Linked DNA regions of Homo sapiens. The protein of the gene in region 3 purifies or fractionates together with the protein of the main gene of each other region. This does not show direct contact. Each region holds a gene or a part of one and is shown on either strand. Other genes may lie near its edges.

The links. Proteins that work in one complex are often made in the same cells at the same time.
Region 1: the proteins of STK25 (region 3) and SLMAP purify together in Homo sapiens (affinity purification with mass spectrometry; 5 studies listed by BioGRID and IntAct, with this or other methods). This does not show direct contact.
Region 2: the proteins of STK25 (region 3) and CTTNBP2NL purify together in Homo sapiens (affinity purification with mass spectrometry; 8 studies listed by BioGRID and IntAct, with this or other methods). This does not show direct contact.
Region 4: the proteins of STK25 (region 3) and FGFR1OP2 purify together in Homo sapiens (affinity purification with mass spectrometry; 5 studies listed by BioGRID and IntAct, with this or other methods). This does not show direct contact.

Annotation. Positions count from the first base shown.
Region 1 is NC_000003.12:57,859,800-57,864,308, reverse strand, and holds part of SLMAP (sarcolemmal membrane-associated protein), read right to left. Parts: intron 3,611-4,509; coding exon 3,470-3,610; intron 2,361-3,469; coding exon 2,223-2,360; intron 1-2,222. UniProt on the Homo sapiens protein: Associates with the striatin-interacting phosphatase and kinase (STRIPAK) core complex, forming the extended (SIKE1:SLMAP)STRIPAK complex.
Region 2 is NC_000001.11:112,450,705-112,455,213, forward strand, and holds part of CTTNBP2NL (CTTNBP2 N-terminal-like protein), read left to right. Parts: intron 1-3,744; coding exon 3,745-3,852; intron 3,853-4,509. UniProt on the Homo sapiens protein: Regulates lamellipodial actin dynamics in a CTTN-dependent manner. Associates with core striatin-interacting phosphatase and kinase (STRIPAK) complex to form CTTNBP2NL-STRIPAK complexes.
Region 3 is NC_000002.12:241,497,582-241,503,101, forward strand, and holds part of STK25 (serine/threonine-protein kinase 25), read right to left. Parts: intron 4,128-5,520; coding exon 3,897-4,127; intron 3,216-3,896; coding exon 3,159-3,215; intron 2,701-3,158; coding exon 2,592-2,700; intron 1,834-2,591; coding exon 1,676-1,833; intron 1,594-1,675; coding exon 1,408-1,593; intron 1,204-1,407; coding exon 1,058-1,203; intron 769-1,057; coding exon 654-768; intron 107-653; coding exon 35-106; intron 1-34. UniProt on the Homo sapiens protein: Oxidant stress-activated serine/threonine kinase that may play a role in the response to environmental stress.
Region 4 is NC_000012.12:26,963,800-26,967,148, reverse strand, and holds the end of FGFR1OP2 (FGFR1 oncogene partner 2), read right to left. Parts: intron 2,554-3,349; coding exon 2,416-2,553; 3' UTR 501-2,415; downstream 1-500. UniProt on the Homo sapiens protein: May be involved in wound healing pathway.

The DNA.
Region 1 (4,509 bases), on a different chromosome or scaffold from region 3:
CAGCCTCCCAAGTAGCTGGGATTACAGGCATGCGCCACCATACCCAGCTAATTTTGTATTTTTAGAAGAGACGGGGTTTCTCCATGTTGGTCAGGCTGGTCTCGAACGCCTGACCTCAGATGATCAGCCCACCTTGGCCTCCCAAAGTGCTGGGATTACAGGCATGAGCCACTGCGCCCGGCTAACCTGACATTTCTAAACCAGTAAAGATGATAAAGACAAAGGCTTGATGTCAAAAATTATCTGCATTGGGTTATTCCTCCATAACACCCAGGAGAGAGAAACTTGGAGGAAGCAAGTAGGCTCAGTACACACAGAGGTAAAGGGTCAATGTGGAAAAAAAAATCGTATTTTTAAAGAGGGAAGTAAGATTTTTCCCTAAAATTACTATCATTTCAATTTTGAAGTTCTATCATGTTAACATTCTGAAATTTTAAACAAAATTATTTAGTAACGAGATGACAGTACAATCACTATTCAAAAAGACCTCTCTGCCTATAGTTTGGATGTTCGTCCCCCAAGCCTCAATGTTGAAATTTGATCCTCAGTGTTGGAGATGGGGTCTAATGAGAGGTGTTTGGGTTATGGGAGCAGATCCCTCATGAATGGCTTGGTGCTGTCCTCATGGTAATGAGTGAATTCTCACTCTATTAGTCCTATGAAAGCTGGTTTTTAAAAAGAGCCTGGCACCTCTCCCAGACCCTCTCTCACCATGGAACACGTACCAGCTCCACTTTGCTTTCTGCCATCAGTGGAAGCAGCCTGAAGCTTCAGCCTGCAGAACTGTGAGCCAAATAAACCTCTTATCTTTATAAATTACCCAGGCTCAGCTATTCCTTTATAGCAACAAAAATGGACAATGACAATCTCCTTTTAACAAGACCAACTTTGAAAACTATCATAGGTTAACCAACGGAGGTATGCTCTGGTCTTCTCTAACAAACACATATCTTCTAGGCACTCAATCCATAGTTTGAATTAAACCAAGATGGACCTTCACAAACAGTTATAAGATTTTTTTTTTCCTCAGTTATAAGATTCTAAAGGACCAACTAGACATTACCCTATCATTACCCTATGATCTGATCTGTCCTTATCCTAGATGTCTCATAGATAGAGGGAATGGCAGCTAAAGCAGAGTTAACAGCATCCCTGAAAGCTAAAAGGGAGATCATTCCCAGATTCTCTCTGGGCTTGTTCCAGCACAGCACTAAATAGCTGGGCCCTGCCTTTTAGATGGCCTAATGATAAGCAGTTTTAGGTTTTAAAACATCTGAATATCATGGGTTTTGCTGATTCTCATCTACTTCCTGTTATATATTTTAGAAATGTCTATTGTGAAGCACTGACTACATATTCATCCAGAGGAACTATGTCAGCATTTACAGGCTTTCAATTATCTATAGTAATGGAGGTTGGGCTAAATGGAATACAGACACCTTATTTTCACTATAAATTTCAACTGTTACCAAATTTTTACATCAATAACTATTCAGCAATACCTAAAATCTTTTTTTATAGAAATCTTATTTAATATGTAGTACCACCTACATCCTGCTTTCATACTTTCAGCATAATTTAACACATTCAAGGAGACTATGCAAATCAATTCAAAATATCTATCTATACCAGTGGTTTTCAAACTGAATTTTTTTTTTTTTTTTTTTTTTGTGAGACGAAGTCTTGCTCTGTCGCCAGGCTGGAGTGCAGTGGTGCAATCTTGGCTCACTGCAACCTCTGCCTCCTGGGTTCAAGTGATTCTTCTGCCTTAGACTCCCAAGGAGCTGGGACTACAGGCATGTGTCACCACGCCCAGCTAATTTTTGTATTTTTAGTAGAGACGGGGTTTCACCATGTTGGCCAGGATGGTCTCAATCTCTTGACCTCATGATCTGCCCGCCTCGGCCTCCCAAAGTGCTGGGATTACAGGCGTGAGCCACTGCGCCTGGCCCAAACTGTTTTTTGTTTGTTTGTTTGTTTGTTTTTCCTTTGAGATGGAGTATCGCTCTGTCGCCCAGGCTGGAGTGCAGTGACGTGATCTCAGCTCGCTGCAACCTCCGTCTCCTGGGTTCAAGCAATTCTCCTACCTCAGCCTCCTGAGAAGCTGGGATTACAGGCGCCCGCCACCCCACGCCCAGCTAAAGCAATACCTAAAATCTTAAGCTATCTAGTGTGTTAGGGATTATTAGCTTAACATACTTTCAGGCAGAGTAAATACATACCTTTAATTTATCAGATAAATCTTTAATCTCATTAACTGCTCCATTATATTTGTTGGCTAATTCTCTTAATTCTTCCTGAGTCCTTTCATTCATTTCTTTCAGATGGGTACATTCATCTTCAGTATTACTCAGACTTCGCTGCGATTCAAGTTTACAGGCAATTTAATTAGAATAAGTGTATATTTGTTATTTAGAATTCCTTCTAAATGAAATTTATAAAAAGTATAATTCTATGGACTATTCTAAATCAACATCTGCCCTGGACTTTAAATAAAGCTGAGTCAAATAACATAAGAATTTCAATTCACACTAAAACAGAAAACATAACTAAGAATTAACAAAAACAACAAAAAAATAAAAGTGGAGGGAGAGCAGGGGCAGGAAAAGGATGCTGCCTTTATATAATTACATTTTTGAAAGGCCAATGGGTATGACTTTTAGCTGTGAAAATATTTTAAGCCTATCAATCCTTGAAAGCAAGTTTAATAATATCCAGCAATCAATTTAATAAAAAATTAAAAGACACTTAGTAACTTTCTTTATATATCAAATTAATCACACAACAGTGAATCAGGCACTATGGGATGAGGTAGCAATACAAACTATACCTGTAGTAAGGAAAGGTATGTTTACCATTTAGTTTCTGATGAGCATTTTAACTAATTCTAGTAATACATTATTTATGTGGTAATTTTGCAGTGGTTCAAAGAAAAGATCTATATTATGAATTAGAATTTTTTTCCCCAAAGCAATAAAAATTGCATTTTGATTGCTCCTCCAAGACCTAGAAAGGACCTTGGAGATGATTTCACCTTTGAACTTCCTAAATATATGACACAGCTAGTTTTCCTCTCTGCAGAGTGAATTAAAAAAGAACAAGTAGTGTAGACTCTTGGCCTTACACTGACCCCCCTCAAATAGAAGCAAAGCAAAACCAAGTGACAGGAAATCAATTCCCCAGCACATATCATGGTCTGCTGTATGGAGGGTGAATCCTAAGCAGAATGCAAACAATAAGATTCCCTGGTTACGCTTTTATTTCCTCAGCCATTGACTAGGGAGTAAGTACCAAAACTCACATGGAGAATTGCTGTCAATGAAAGCAGCGTAACTGTTCCTTCCCACCTGACAGACAGAAAGTATTTCCTAACTATATAATAATACCCAAGTTTAAAGTATCCTGGAATGCTTGAGATTTTTTTGAACACTCATAATACTATTTAGTATTTTTTTTTTGATTGAAATACCTCAACTTCTGAAAGTTTTCTAACCACTTCAATTTTCTCCTGAAGAACCCGCCTCAGGGACTCTTTGGCTGTTGTCTCATAGTTATGTTTATCCTCTTGTAATGCTATAAGTTCCTTTCGTAAACTATCTTCTGTTTGATTCTACAATAAAAGATATTTATAATTATAGACAAGTTATTTTTTAAAAGCATTTATTGTTTGAAAAAAATTAACACATTATGATATACTTTAAATTATATATTAAGGTACCTCCAAACATAAATGATTCTGGCCCTGTATTAACTAAAGATGTATTTACAAGTTGCATAAGTAAATTATGCCTTCACAAACTTACTAATTTCCACTTCCTATAGAAAAAAAAAGTTATAGGCAATTGAGAATTTCCCTAAAATATACAAAATTAGTTACTTTTATATTTGTCATATTTTCTGCAAGCCACCATATTCACATTTGTAGGCAAAAATAATCAATTACCTTCAAAGGCACCAAGCATTCTGAAACAATGGTTAAAACAAAAGGAATAAGAGTACCATGGGGGAAAAGCAGACTTCATGTCTGGGGCAGGAAAAGTACAAAATGAGCCTGAAACATCTTGTCTGAAATGACAGCATGAAGCTATCACTCTGAAGACATTTACACAGACCAAAGATGGGATAATTTGAGCATCAATAAGAAAAATAGGCTGGCCGTGGCACTTTGGGAGGCCGAGATGGGAGGATTGCGTGAGCCCAGGAGTTCAAGACCAGCCTGGGCAACATAGCAAGACCCTGTCTCTAAAACAAGAAAAACAACTGCACCAGATTTAAATACATCAAATATGTTTAAATCTAAGTGGAGTGAGAAAACACTTCATGGCCAGTCTTTGGTAGATGAAAAACCACCAATTCATTATTCTGAAATCTAATAAATAAGGGGAGAAAATCACTTATCTTGCTTTCCCCGTAGAAAACATACCTCAGGGTTATTTAAATTTTTTTATTCCAATACCTTTAGAGATACAAGTGGTTTTTGGTTACATGGATGAATTATGTAGTGGTGAT
Region 2 (4,509 bases), on a different chromosome or scaffold from region 3:
ATATTGCAGTGCTAAATGTTTTAAGTGAATATTAAATTTTTGAAACAAAGTACCTATCTATTCTTTTTTTTTTTTTTTTTGAGGTGAAGTCTCACTCTGTCACCCAGGCTGGAGTGCAGTGGTACAATCTTGGCTCACTGCAACCACCACCTCCCAGGTTCAAGTTTAAGTGGTTTATCAAAGTAGAAGACTGACTTTGTTAGAAATCAAACAGTACCTAGAGGCTTATAATTAGGGTGCTCATAGTCTCAGCTTATGCCTGTCACCTTGGCTTAGTTATTAACCATATTCCCTTTGACTGTCAGAAATGTTCTGGTTTGAATAATAAATTACATGGTCATTGTGCTTACAATGAAAAACAGTTTTCTATTCCACCTCTTCTCATTCCCCATCCTCCCCAGTATTCACAGGCAACCAGTTTTTTCTTTTAGCCATTCACTTTGGTAGCTAACCTCCATATTTCTAAATACTGCACTGTTCTCTCTTGCTTTATCAATTTTAGACATTTATATTACTTTCTTTTATATAGGTGCAGATTTAGTTATCTTACACCCCGCCTCCCTTTCCTCTCCTTAACCCTTACCCAGAACAAATTTAATCCTCTTTTCCCACCACCATTCTCTGTCACATCTACTATTCCCAAATCCTGAGCCTGTCACACTATTTCTTGAATGTGACAGGCTCAGGATTTGGGAATAGTAGATGTGACAGAGGCCAGATGCTGATGGTCTGTGTGCAGGAATCAGGGTGAAGGGACAAATAATTCTGAAAATACAGGCTTTGAAGGCCAGACACAGTGACTCATGCCTGTAATCCCAGCACTTTGGGAGGCCAAGACAGGCAGATCACTTGAGGTCAGGAGTTCGAGGCCAGGCCAGCCAACATGGTGAAACCCCATCTCTGCTAAAAATACAAAAATTAGCCAGGCATGGTGGCGTTCCTGTAATCCCAGCTACTCGGGAGGCTGAGGCAGAAGAATAGCTTGAGCCCAGGAGGTGGAGGTTGCAGTGAGCTGAGATCACACCACTGTAATCCAGCTTGGGTGACAGAGCAAGACTGTCTCAAAAAAAAAAAAAAAAACACAAAACAAACAAACAAAAAAACAGGCTTTGAGCCAGTTCTCCTGTTTTCTATTCTACATTTCACCTCTCCTCTGCAGTACCTGCCACCTCCAGGTTCCATCTCTTTGGGGCTCTGCAAGGCAAAACAGCTTCCCTCCTTCAAAGTAAAGTAGTTACCACAACTCCAGCCTCTTTTCTTCTTCAAAATATTATTAAAATTTTTTCTCTGCTAGAGGCTCTCTCCTTTGTGGGGTTTTAGTCTTTTTATTCCATTTCTGTAATTTTTGAGGACTCCCAAAAGGGAGAAGATAAGACTTACCACTTTTGGCCAAAAGCATGTCTTTCTATTAAATTGAAAAATTAGATTAAAAAAAGGAAATGTGCCAAATTTTTTTTCTTTCATTTATTTTGAGAGACAGGGTCTCGCTGTGTTGCCTGGGCGGGAGTACAGTGGCTATTAACAGGTGCGATCATAGCACCCTATAGCCTGGAACTCTTGGGCTCCAGTGATCCACCTCAGCCTCCCTAGTATCTGGGACTACAAGCATACACCACAGCACCAGTCTCTTCTTTTTTTTTTTTTTTTTTTTTTTTTTTAGACAGAGTTTCACTCTTGTTGCTCAGGCTGGAGTGCAATGGCACAATCTTGGCTCACCACAACCTCTGCCTACTGGGTTCAAGCGATTCTCCTGCCTCAGCCTCCCGAGTAGCTGGGATTACAGGCATGTGCCACCATGCCTGGCTAATTTTGTATTTTTAGTAGAGACAGGGTTTCTCCATGTTGGTCAGGCTGGTCTCGAACTCCCAACCTCAGGTGATCCACCTGCTTTGGCCTCCCAAAGTGCTGAGATTACAGGCATGAGCCACCACTCCTGGCCTCTTTTTTTTTTTTTGAGACAAAGTCTCACTCCGTTGCCTGGGCTGGAGTGCAACGGCATAATCATGGCTCACTGCAACCTCGACCTCCCTGGGCTGAGGTGATCCTTCCACCTCAGCCTCCTGAGTAGCTGGGACTACATGCACACCTCACCATGCCTGGCTAATTTTTGTACTTTTTTGTAGAAATGGGGTTTTGGGTTGGGCACAGTGGGTCACACCTGTAATCCCATCACTTTGGGAAGCTGAGGCAGAAGGACCACTTGAGTCCAGGTGTTTGAGACCAGCCTGGGCAACATGGCGACACCCCATTTCTACAAAAAATCAGCAGGCCATAGTGGTGTATGCCTGTAGTCTCAGCTGCTCAGGAGGCTGAGGTGGGAGGATCACTTGAGCCTAGGAGGCAAAGATTGCAGTGAGCCGAGATGATGCCACTGCATTTCAGCTTGGGTGAGAGTAAGACCCTGTCTCCTCAAAAGGAAGGAAGGGGGTGGGGGAGGGAGAGGGAGAGGGAGAAATAAATGGCTGGTCTCAAACTCCTGTGCTCAAGCAATCCTCCTGCCTCTGCCTCCCAAAAGTGCTGGGATTACAGGCATGAGCTCATTTTTATTTTTATAGACAGGTTTCATGTCCCAGAAAATTTACTCTCTTCACTCATAAAAATTTTTAGTGAGAAGACTAAGAAATGGCCTTTGGGACAAGAGTGCTCTACCCTGGAGGTCTGGGCCAAGGCACTTCTGAAGCATGAGCAGAAGCTACTAAGCAATCAGAATATTTGCAGTTGTAGATGGGATTATGTGAAAAATGTCTCTTTAAATTTGTATTCTTGGCCATGTGTGATGGCTCACACCTGTAATCCCAGCATTTTGGGAGGCTGAGGCGGGTGGATCACTTGAGCCCAGGAGTTCCAGACCAGCCTGGGCAAGATGGCAAAACCCCATCTCTACAAAAAATACTAAAATCAGCTGGGCGTGGTGGCGCACACCTGTAGTCCCAGCTACTTGGGAGGCTGAGAGGTGGGAGAATCTCTTGAGCTCGGGAGGCCAAGGCAGCAGTGAGCCATGATTGCACTACTACAGTCCAGCCTGGGTGACAAAGCAAGACCCTGTCTCGAAAAATAAATATATTTGTCTTCTCCTTAAAATTGGGCTTAATCCTTTGGCACCAGGGTAAGTGAAATAGGGGTAGGCAAGTTAAATAAAAGGGCGTATGAAAAATCTCCATTTAAGGTCTCTATATTTGAGCCTTTTTACATGCAGTAGGAAGTCAAGAGAGTCTATCCACCTCTTATCTAACTATATAAAAATGTATATTATTAGTTAAACAAGGCACACTTAGAATGTCACCTATTTGAAATGTTGAATTTCAGGCTCCTTCTTTGGTGCCTCTGGTGATTTGAGAATTGAGAAGAAAATCTCAGCTTTCAGGTTTCTGTGGTCCTGTCTTGCTCCATCACCTACACCTGGCCCCTAGTAACACCAAACTGCCTGCAGTTTCTTGGAATTTCTGTTAATTCTCGACACCTCCTCAACCCCTCTAGCTAATTAGTTGCTCTCTTCTCTCTGTTTGCATATCATTCTCTACATACTTCAAGTAAAGTAAGTATCTTACTGTTTAACACAGAGCTTTCATGTCTTTCACTGTAAGGCAGTGTGCTCCTTGATAGCCCTTGCTGGGTTTCATTTATTCGTTTGTTTGTTTGATCTCTGGAACTATCTAAGGTGCCTGATTTGGCACTTATTATTGGTTGTATTAATAAATGTGACTCCTTGATATTTGAAAATGAAATTTAAAAAATTCTTTAAAGGTGATCCTAGACCTTGAGGAAGAAAGGCAGCGGCATGCACAGGATACGGCTGAAGGAGATGATGTCACCTACATGCTAGAGAAGGAAAGAGAGAGGCTGACTCAACAGGTAATTAAGGTAGAGGGATTCACAGTAGCATTTGCCTGGAACAGCATTTCCCAAAGATTATTCTGCAGGATGCCAACTGGTATTGTTCAGAAAAGGGGCTTTGTGGTCAAATAAGTTTAGGAACTACTGGATTAAGCAAAGTTAAACAGGTTTCTAACTTTGTTAGGATCTTTAGTATGCAGAAGCACATTGTGAGTCTTCAAGAACAAGATAGGGTATTCTGTGTTTAGCAAATCCATGGTTTTATAAAATCTTTTATTGGCATAGATCCCTCACTGTGGGATTATTATTGTTCCGTAGAACACTCTTTGGGGAATGGTAACTTAGCGCTTGTAGCTCTCAAACTTTTGACTTAGAACCCCCAGTAAGAAGTGACATTTTATGTCACAACCCAGTATATGTAGACATACACAGTTACGCCTGAAACAAAAATCTCATGAAATCATATATAACCCCTACTGCTACAGTACACATTGATGTTTTCTGTTTATATATTTTTTTAAAATTCTAGTCGTGGCTCAGTTAGTTTCCCCATCCATTAATGGATCTCAGAGTTTGAAAAACACTGAGTTTCTTCAACCCTTTCCCTCTCACGCAGAGTCTCTGCCTCAAATAGGGTTGGGAAGACAATTAAAACAGGCTATATTTGTGTAAAAA
Region 3 (5,520 bases):
GGGACTCCAGGCCCAGTCCCAGCCCCATCCTCACCTCTCCGAAGACGGGCCGGACCAGCGTGGACAGGCACTGGGACCTCGGCTGCCTCTTGACGGGCTCCGCAGGCTGCAAAGGAGTGGAGGCCCAGGGTGAGCAGGGCAGTGCAGGTGACAGGCAGGGCACTCCCATCCCTGCCCAGGCTCTAGCCTTGAAGAGACAGAGGCTGGGAGCAGCCTGTCGGGGCACATGTCCAGGGCCGGCCCCAAAACCATCAAGCCACCCGGATGGCCTGACTCTGAGGGCGACTCCCACCCTCTCCTGACTCTGAGGGCCTGTGACTCCCACCCTCTCCTGACTCTGAGGGCCTGTGACTCCCACCCTCTCCTGACTCTGAGGGCTTGTGACTCCCACCCTCTCCTGACTCTGAGGGCCTGTGACTCCCACCCTCTCCTCACAAATTTGGCTCCAAACAGGCCCTCATCTTCCCGGCACATGCTGGGGCTCGGGGTCTCCACACCAGGCCTAGTGCCACAGTGGGCTTCAGACCACCCCTGCCTTTCCCAAGCTCCTTGTCCAAGCTCCAGACACTGGGTGGACAAAGCTGGGTCCCGCATCCAGCCCATCCCACGGCCCCAGGGGTGCACAGAGGGCAAAGGCCAGGCCAGGAACAGACCTTCTGTGAACTGTGCAGGGCCGTCCCCTTGTGAAGCTTGCTGTGTGGACTCGGCCGGATGGTAGGGGGGAACGTCCAGATGGGGCCCTGCTCCCCGTCCTCCGCCTCGCCATCACTGAAGAGGATGAGGAGTTGCCAGGGCCAGTGGGGAGAGGGCCAGGAGGCATGAGGGCCTCAGGGCACACCTCACGGCCAAGGGAAACCCGAGGTACCAGACGGGGCTCTGCCAGGCCACGGGGTCCAGCTGATGCCTCAGCAGGCCCTGTCCTGCAGCCTTGAGGGGGTCCCTGCCCAACACTATATCTGGTCACCCTCACCCCCAGGGCCCACGCCCCTGCTTCTGGAGTGGGGACCACCCACGTCACAGCACCTAGGGTCACCATGAGGATAAACCAGGTCCCTACATGTCAGAGTCCTCAGAGCTGGACTCCTCGCCATGCCCCTCTGACTTCCAGCGCTTATAGCGGTCGATGAGCTCCGTGAGGAAGGAGGTCTTCTTGGTGTAGCGTGTGATGAACTTGTGCTTCAGGAGCTCCTTGGCCGTGGGCCGCTGCAGGGGGTCAGGGGAACACTAGTCACTGGGCCCAGCCAAGCTCTGCCTAAGGGAAGCAAACGTGAGGCAGCCTGGACCGGGGCGGGCCCTCACAGCTACAAGGCTGGTGGGCCTGGGCCTCCGGGCTGTGCCGCCCACCCCAAGCGAACGCCCTCCCTCCACGTCCTGTCTAGAAGGGACCGGGCCAGAGGCGGGCCTTACGAATCGGGGGTCTTTGTTGAGGCAGGCCTCCACGAACTCCTTGAAGGGCTTGCTGTGCTGGCCCTCCAGTGTGGGTGGGCTGTTCTTGGGAATCAGGAACAGGACGCGCATGGGGTGGAGGTCAGAGTTTGGAGGCTCCCCCTTGGCCAGCTCGATGGCTGTGATCCCCAGGGACCAGATGTCAGCCTGGACAGAACACAAGGACTGTTGCTGCCCTGAGCACCCGAGCCAGGCATGGTGCCCGCACCTGCCCGCCCGCTGCACCCACCTTGAAGTCGTAGGCCGACTGCTTGATGACCTCAGGTGCCATCCAGAAGGGGGTGCCCACGAATGTGTTCCTCTTAATCTGCGTGTCTGTGAGCTGCCCTGCTACCCCAAAGTCCGCCAGCTTCACGTCACCCTGCTCCGAGAGTAGCACGTTGGCAGCTGCTTGACACAGGACAGGCAGGCGTCATCCCAGGCTCCACGTGGCTCCACCCCGGGCCCCCTGAGAAGGGCCAGGGTACCATCCACCTGGCCTCCTAGGGCACAGCAGGGCTGTCCTCAGGACCTCAGCCCTCCTTGCCACTCTCAAACCCAGGGCCACCTAGGGCCACAGGGGCACTGCCAGCAGGAGCCCAACGGCTCCACTCCGAGCTCCAGGGCTCTTCCTGCATTTGGCTTTTACGACAAATCCCAACGACAAGCGACTTCGCCCACTGGGGGCTACCGCAGAGGTGACCCTGACCAAGGGTGTAGCCAACACGGGCCTGCCAGGAAGCCCCCTGCTCCACCAGAATCGTCCCCTACATGACAGAGATGGCTCGTTGCCAGTGGCAAGTCCCTCCCCATGGGCTGGCCCAGCCTCCCGTCTGCTCTCAGCAGGGCCAGACCACACGCTGGGGCTACTCAATTCTACACCTGCTGCTGTGCCGTGCACCACAGGGAACCAACAACTCCAGCCAAGTGTGGCCCTTTCCTACACTCAGTCCACAGCTGGTTTCCTCAGCGTACAAGGAAACCGTTACAAGTAGTATCTTCTGGAAAGGGAGCGAGACAGGACTGCTCAGTTTCAGGGTGGCCACAAGGTTCTCTATACTCCAGACCCTGGGCACCACTAGCCACTTGCCCCTCACAGGCCCCGGCCTCTCTAAGGTCAGTGGGGCTCAGGACGTTACAAGAGCCACATCCACCCCCAGCAGGACCTTTGATGTCTCGGTGGATCTTGCGTTCGGAGTGCAGATAATCCAGGCCCTTCAGAATCTCCCGCAGGATCGTGGCAATGTATGTCTCCTCCAGGGGACCTGGTTTAAGCTGGAGAGGAAGGTGCGACAGCAGGGCCTCAGCTCCTGTCCCAGGCCCAATGCCTGAGTTCTCTGCCTCTCTCACAGGGAAGGGCTGTCCCTGCAGATAGCTGGGGGCTTCGTGTTCCTTTACTTCCCAAACAGAACTAAGTTTCAGATGGGAGTGGGGTGGTGGAGGCTCTTTCTAAAGCATATAAACCAGCCTCACCTTACTGTCATGTAACAGAAAAATAGGCTCCCAGCCATCTCCCAGCAGGCCTGCCCCCGCCCACTCCCACAGGCCAGGACCCCTTTCAGCACCAACTGGGCAGACGTGCAGATGGCAGTTCATTTTTGCTTTAGACGATTCCTAATTAACACCTAACGTGCCATGACACCAAACGAGAGGTGGCCCCTGGAGCCCATGAGTCTGAGGGGCAGGGGACTCGGACACTGCATGACCCCCCACTGCCATGGCCTATGCCTCACCAAGTCCAGTGCTGAGCCGCCGCCCAGGTACTCCATGATGATCCATAGCTTGGTGCTCTGGGACCGGAGACAAACCCATCAGCATTTGGCAGCAAGAGGAAGGGCATGCTCCAGGGTGGGAGTCACAGGCCGGAGTCAGCCAGGGCCCAGGCCCCACCGGTCCCATCCCTGCCAAGAACCCTGAACAGGAAAGGGCTCTCTCGGCCTTGCCCATCTTCCCCTCCTGCCACACTACTGCTACAGATGCTCAGAGGACAGGTTGAGTACACACAGCAGTGGCTGACTCCACTTCACCAAGACCCCATCAAAAACCAGGCTGCTGATCCAGTCCTACAGGGCTGGGAAGAGGGCATGGCTGGCAAGCATGTGACCCGACACACCCATCACCCTCCTGGGCAGGATGGCCACAGCGTTCCCTACACCCCAGACACTGGCACCACCAGCCACCTGCTCCTCACAGGCCCACTCACCACTGCCAGTAGGGGCCCCCCAGAGTGCTCCTAGCAGCGCCCTCACTGCATTACCACAGGCAGGCAAGTGGGTCCCAATGGCCATTTAGAGCCAACTGACCCTCGTGGACGAGGGCTCACACCCTGCCTGCCCAGGGCAGTTTCCCGGAGGGCATGCACTGAACCGTCAAGACCGCCTTGCACCCTCTGGCATGTCACTCAGTCCCTCTGACATGGAAGAGAGCCGGGCACAGCACCAGCAGGGTCCCCGCCTCCCCACAACAGGCACCTTTAGGTAGGAGCCAAAGTAGCGGGTGATGTAGGGGCTGTCGCACTGACTGAGGACAGTGATCTCCTGCTGGATGTCCTCGATCTCATCCTCGGCCTCCTCCAGGTCGATGATCTTGATGGCCACCACCTCCTTTGTGTGGTTATCGATGCCCTTGTAGACCTCCCCAAACGAGCCCTTGCCAATGCGGTCGAGCTTGGTGAAGAGCTCCTCAGGGTCCACTCGAGAGTGCTGTGGGGCCAGGGCGGGGACAGAGGGCAGACAGCGCCGGTCACAAGAGGCGGGGGACAGGCAGAGGCTGCCCTGCTGGGGAGGAAGGGACCTGTAGGGAAGGGGGAGTCCAAGGGAGCGCACCTCAATTCTTCTCTGGTTTCTTCCTTTCTCCCTTTTTGTTCAAAAACTAAACTTGGCCGGGCGTGGTGGCTCACGCCTGTAATTCTAGCACTTTGGGAGGCCGAGGCAGGTGGATCACTTGAGGTCAGGAGTTCGAGACCAGCCTGGCCAGCATGGTGAAACCCCATCTCTAATACAAAAAAATTATCTGGGCGTGGCGGCTCATGCCTGTAATCCCAGCTACTCAGGAGGCTGAGGCAGGAGAATTGCTTGAACCCGGGAGGCGGAGGTTGCAGTGAGCCAAGACCGCACCATTGCACTCCAACCTGGGCAACAAGAATCAAACTCCATTAAAAAAACAAACAAACAAACAAATAACAACAACAAAAAAACCTAAACTGAACTTTCCATGCAAGGGAAAAAGTCCCCAGAAAGTATAAAGAGGCCAGGCCAACTCGATGAACCCTGCTGGAAACAGGAGCTTTAGGTGATGACACGGCATGAAGGTTGCCTCATCTAACCCGAACAACATGCCAGCCCCGTGACAGATGTTAATAGGTGAATGGCCCCTGGGGGTGAGGGGGGATTTGGGAGCTCTTACTTAATTTGTTATAAATCTGAAATTACTAAAAAATAAACTCATCAGGCCAGGCTTGGTGGTGCACACCTGAAATCCCAGCACTCTGGGAGGCCAAGGCGGGTTGATCACCTGAAGTCAGGAGTTCGCAACCAGCCTGACTAACATGGTAAAACCCCATCTCTACTGAATACAAAAAAAATTAGCCGGGCGAGGTTGCGTATGCCTGTGATCCGAGCTACTTGAGAGTCCAAGACAGAAGAATCACTTGAATCAGGGAAGCGGAGGTTGCGGTGAGCCGAGATCGCACCATCGCACTCCAGCCTGGGCAACAAGAGCGAAACTAGGTCTCAAAAAAATAAAAAATTTAAAAAAAAAAACCTCATCAAAAACAAAAAACCTCAGTATGTGTTAACCAAGTTCTCCTCCACTCCTGAAAGTCACGTATTTAGAAAGGGCTTCCCTCACCCCTCCATAAGTCCTCCTGACAGCTACACCAGCGCGGAGTTAGAAACTTGATGCTTTCTTGATGCAGAAAGCTGCCTCACACAGTCCTCAGATTTAAAGAAGCAATGCCTAAAAGTTTCTGAGCCAGTGGTGTGGAAGGTGCCTGGGGTCTGTGGCCCAGGCCCAGAGTCCAGGGGAAGCCAGCAGAGGTGTGTCCTCAAGCCTCGACCCTTTTTTAAATGTTTTTGAGATGGCTTCTCACTCTGT
Region 4 (3,349 bases), on a different chromosome or scaffold from region 3:
GAAGTCTGAAATCAAGCAGGCTTGGTCCTTTCTGGAGCCCGTGAAGAACCCATTCCATGCCTCTCTTGCAGCTTCTGGTGGTGGCTAGCAGTCCTTGCGTAACTCATTGCCTCTGTCCTCATGCTGCTATATCTGTGTTTCATATCTCCTCCTCTCTTATTGTAACGACACTAGTCACTGGGTTTGGAGCCCACCCAAAATCCAGGGTAATTATATCCTGAGATCCCCTAATCACATCTGTAAAGACTATTTCCAAATATGGTCACCTTCCCAGGTGTATCAAGTTAGGACTTAGACTTACCTTCTAGGGGACATGATTCAACCTACTACAAATGGTAAGAAGTTCTGCAGGATCCACACTAAGAAGCTGCTAATTCCTAAGGAATACAGATAGAGGTCACTGCTAAGTAGTTTTGCACTAAGAAGAGACAAAAAACCTTAAAATTAAACCATATATAAGAATAAGGGTAAGCACTTTTCAAATTAAATTGGAGACCATACCAATTTTAATCATTCATCTTTAATAATAAAATAGGTTCCTATGCAGTACATACCTCAAACATAAACTTAAGGTTCTGTTTAACAACAACCAAAAAAAAAAAAAAAATAGGATGGAAATGTGTCACTAAATAACAAAGTAAATGTCTTTAAACATGAAGACCTTAAATTCATATCCAAGCAAAAAGACGAAGAATAAGTTAACCCAACTTGTTTACAAAAATAATTATTTATCAAGTAAGCTTTTATAGTAGAGCTGCCTCAATGAACTGCCTCAGACTTAATCTCAATGGTGTAGCTTGAAATAGATTTCCTTTATTAGCAGGGATAAGAAGTATCTGAATGAATGTGTCATTAAATTAAGGAATACTTTCCCAAAAACAATAAAAAGTTTAAAAATAAAAACTGTCATTTATTTATAAAATATCAAATAAGGCCTCTGACTGAAAAAAAGAAATCTATATAATGTTTGGGCCATTAGCCCTTTTCTATTCAATCAGTCTCATCCACCCCATTCACCCCAAACTTAAGATAAAAAAATTCTCAAGTGTAGTTTTGAATTTTACCAATATATGAAATTATACATAAAATTACCATATAAAGTAATATTTAACAAATTATATACTCAAAGTATAATTTTCCATTTGTCTTAATTTTAATACGTATTCAACATAAATGAGTACAATATATTTAACCATGTTTGACACTCTTCTTTTATCCCTTTTTAATACAATCACCACAACATAAGAAAATTTAGGTTTCAACTGATGTTAAAGCACATTTCTGTATCTGGTGGTTTTTAAAAAAATTACATATTATATATTTGACATTTTAAAAGACAACAGAAACAAATCCACAGATTACTCCACCTTTACCCCCACTTTCAGCTGAAAGGTTTTAAGAAAAATCTTGCAGGTTATGAGGACCAGATGGAGCTTAAAAACAGATCCGGAACTTTTTTTTTGAAATTGTATTTACTTTTTTTTTTTGTATCTCAAGAATACTTAAAGGAAAAAAAAAAGGGTTCTATGAGCCAGAGGAATTCCCAATTCACTTTGAAATTACCATACCTATCTTGCCATATCAAACATTTCAATTCTGTTAACTAAATGAACTACATAATATCCTTAAAAATCAGCCAGAGAAGAGAAAAACAAATCTCGTCTTCATTATTGACTTTGAACCAAAACTTATTCTTTCAAAGGAGTAGTTTAACCTACTAAATATGTCTATTATAAGATCTTCTTTCTTAGAAAGTAGTATTCCTTCTTTTTCATTCCTGAAATGGTATTTCTTACACTTAAACAAGTTATGGACAATTGTTAGCTAAGTATCAGTTATGATAAATTGCTAAAATTAAATTATCTGTTTAAGGTACATATAACACATTCCTATAGCCTTTAAAACTGTATTTTCTTTCACAAAAATTTAAATAAATGTGAAAGTAGGCAATCACTAGAAGTCTCATGGTACATAAACTTTGCATCAACTTTGACGCCAAATAAGGATGAAATTTAGCGTACAAATCCTCCGTTCACAAAACAGTGGCAAAAATTTATATTTTTAAATTGGTATAATTTTATGCATTCTCAAACATTTACTGGGAATATTCAAGTTTACCTAATTAATCACCCAGAAAGCCAGCAGTACTGCCAAAAGCTCTTGGTATATTCAGTAGTCACTGTGAAAACTTTTCATTTCTTTACCATTTGGCAATGGCTCAGTTTCTATTTTCCAATTATGTTTTGGAATAAAGTCTATGACCATTAACTATGCATTTTTTGTTGCTATCTCATAGCCCGTGCACTGTACATATTTACAGAGAAAAAAATAAAGGATTGAATTTTCTGTCCATTCATTCATTCACTTATTTGACCATTTGGAGCCATGTAAGAAGCTCACAGACTCAGAAACTCTTCAGCTCTTCCTCAGACTCAAATCACTGTTGGTCACTAATGCTGACAAAGAAGTACTTTCCGACGCATCATCTTTCCTTAGGTTCAAAAATGATTCTCGAGTTATTTGAAGGATCTCTCTCAAGCCTTTGTTTTCTTGCTAAAAGGCAAGCAAAAACAAAGATGCAGTCACTATCTACAAGGTAGCTACAACATCACAAACATATGTTAGGAAAAACTGAACATATGAAGGTATAACAAACAAGCAAGGTCTGTAATTGGCATTAATCTACTCAATGATATATGCAGTTGGCAACTTGAATCTAAAGAACACTTATGCAGCTAGGAATCGTGTTCAACATCTTCCACCACTGCAAAGCCTTCTTACTTAAGCAGCTATAATTGTAAACAGAAGCTCAGAAATTGCCTTATTTTACAATCACATTAGAGATGAAGAAAATAACATCTAGATTTATTTTTATATAAACTCGTAAAGCCAGTGAATAGGCTAGAATCTCCTAGTAATTTTTAGTATTTTTATTACTTTCCATGATAGCATGGAATGTAGGACAAGTTTAGCTCATTGGCATTTGAGAGCAGCAGGGTAGGGGTAGCTGATGATATTTTTCAAGAAGGAAAGTAAGTGACCAAATCTGGCACTGGTAAATAACTTTGCTTTCTGGCCTCCTTTTGGTTAGTTACTGTAAAAAAATTTGTAGACATTTAACAATAACCTTTCATAATTTGTTCTCTATCACTTTATCTTCAGTCTCACTTTCTAAATTTTAGTAGTCTAAAGCAGGTTCCCCGCCGTGATTTCAAAATGAAGCTCTTAAGGCATAAAAGTCTATTGTACTGATTTCAGTTATTCAGAGACTGGTACTTTCACTGTCATAAAATAAAGGACAGATGACAAAGGTTTTTAGAATCCCCAGAAAAATAAGAGTGCCCCTAAA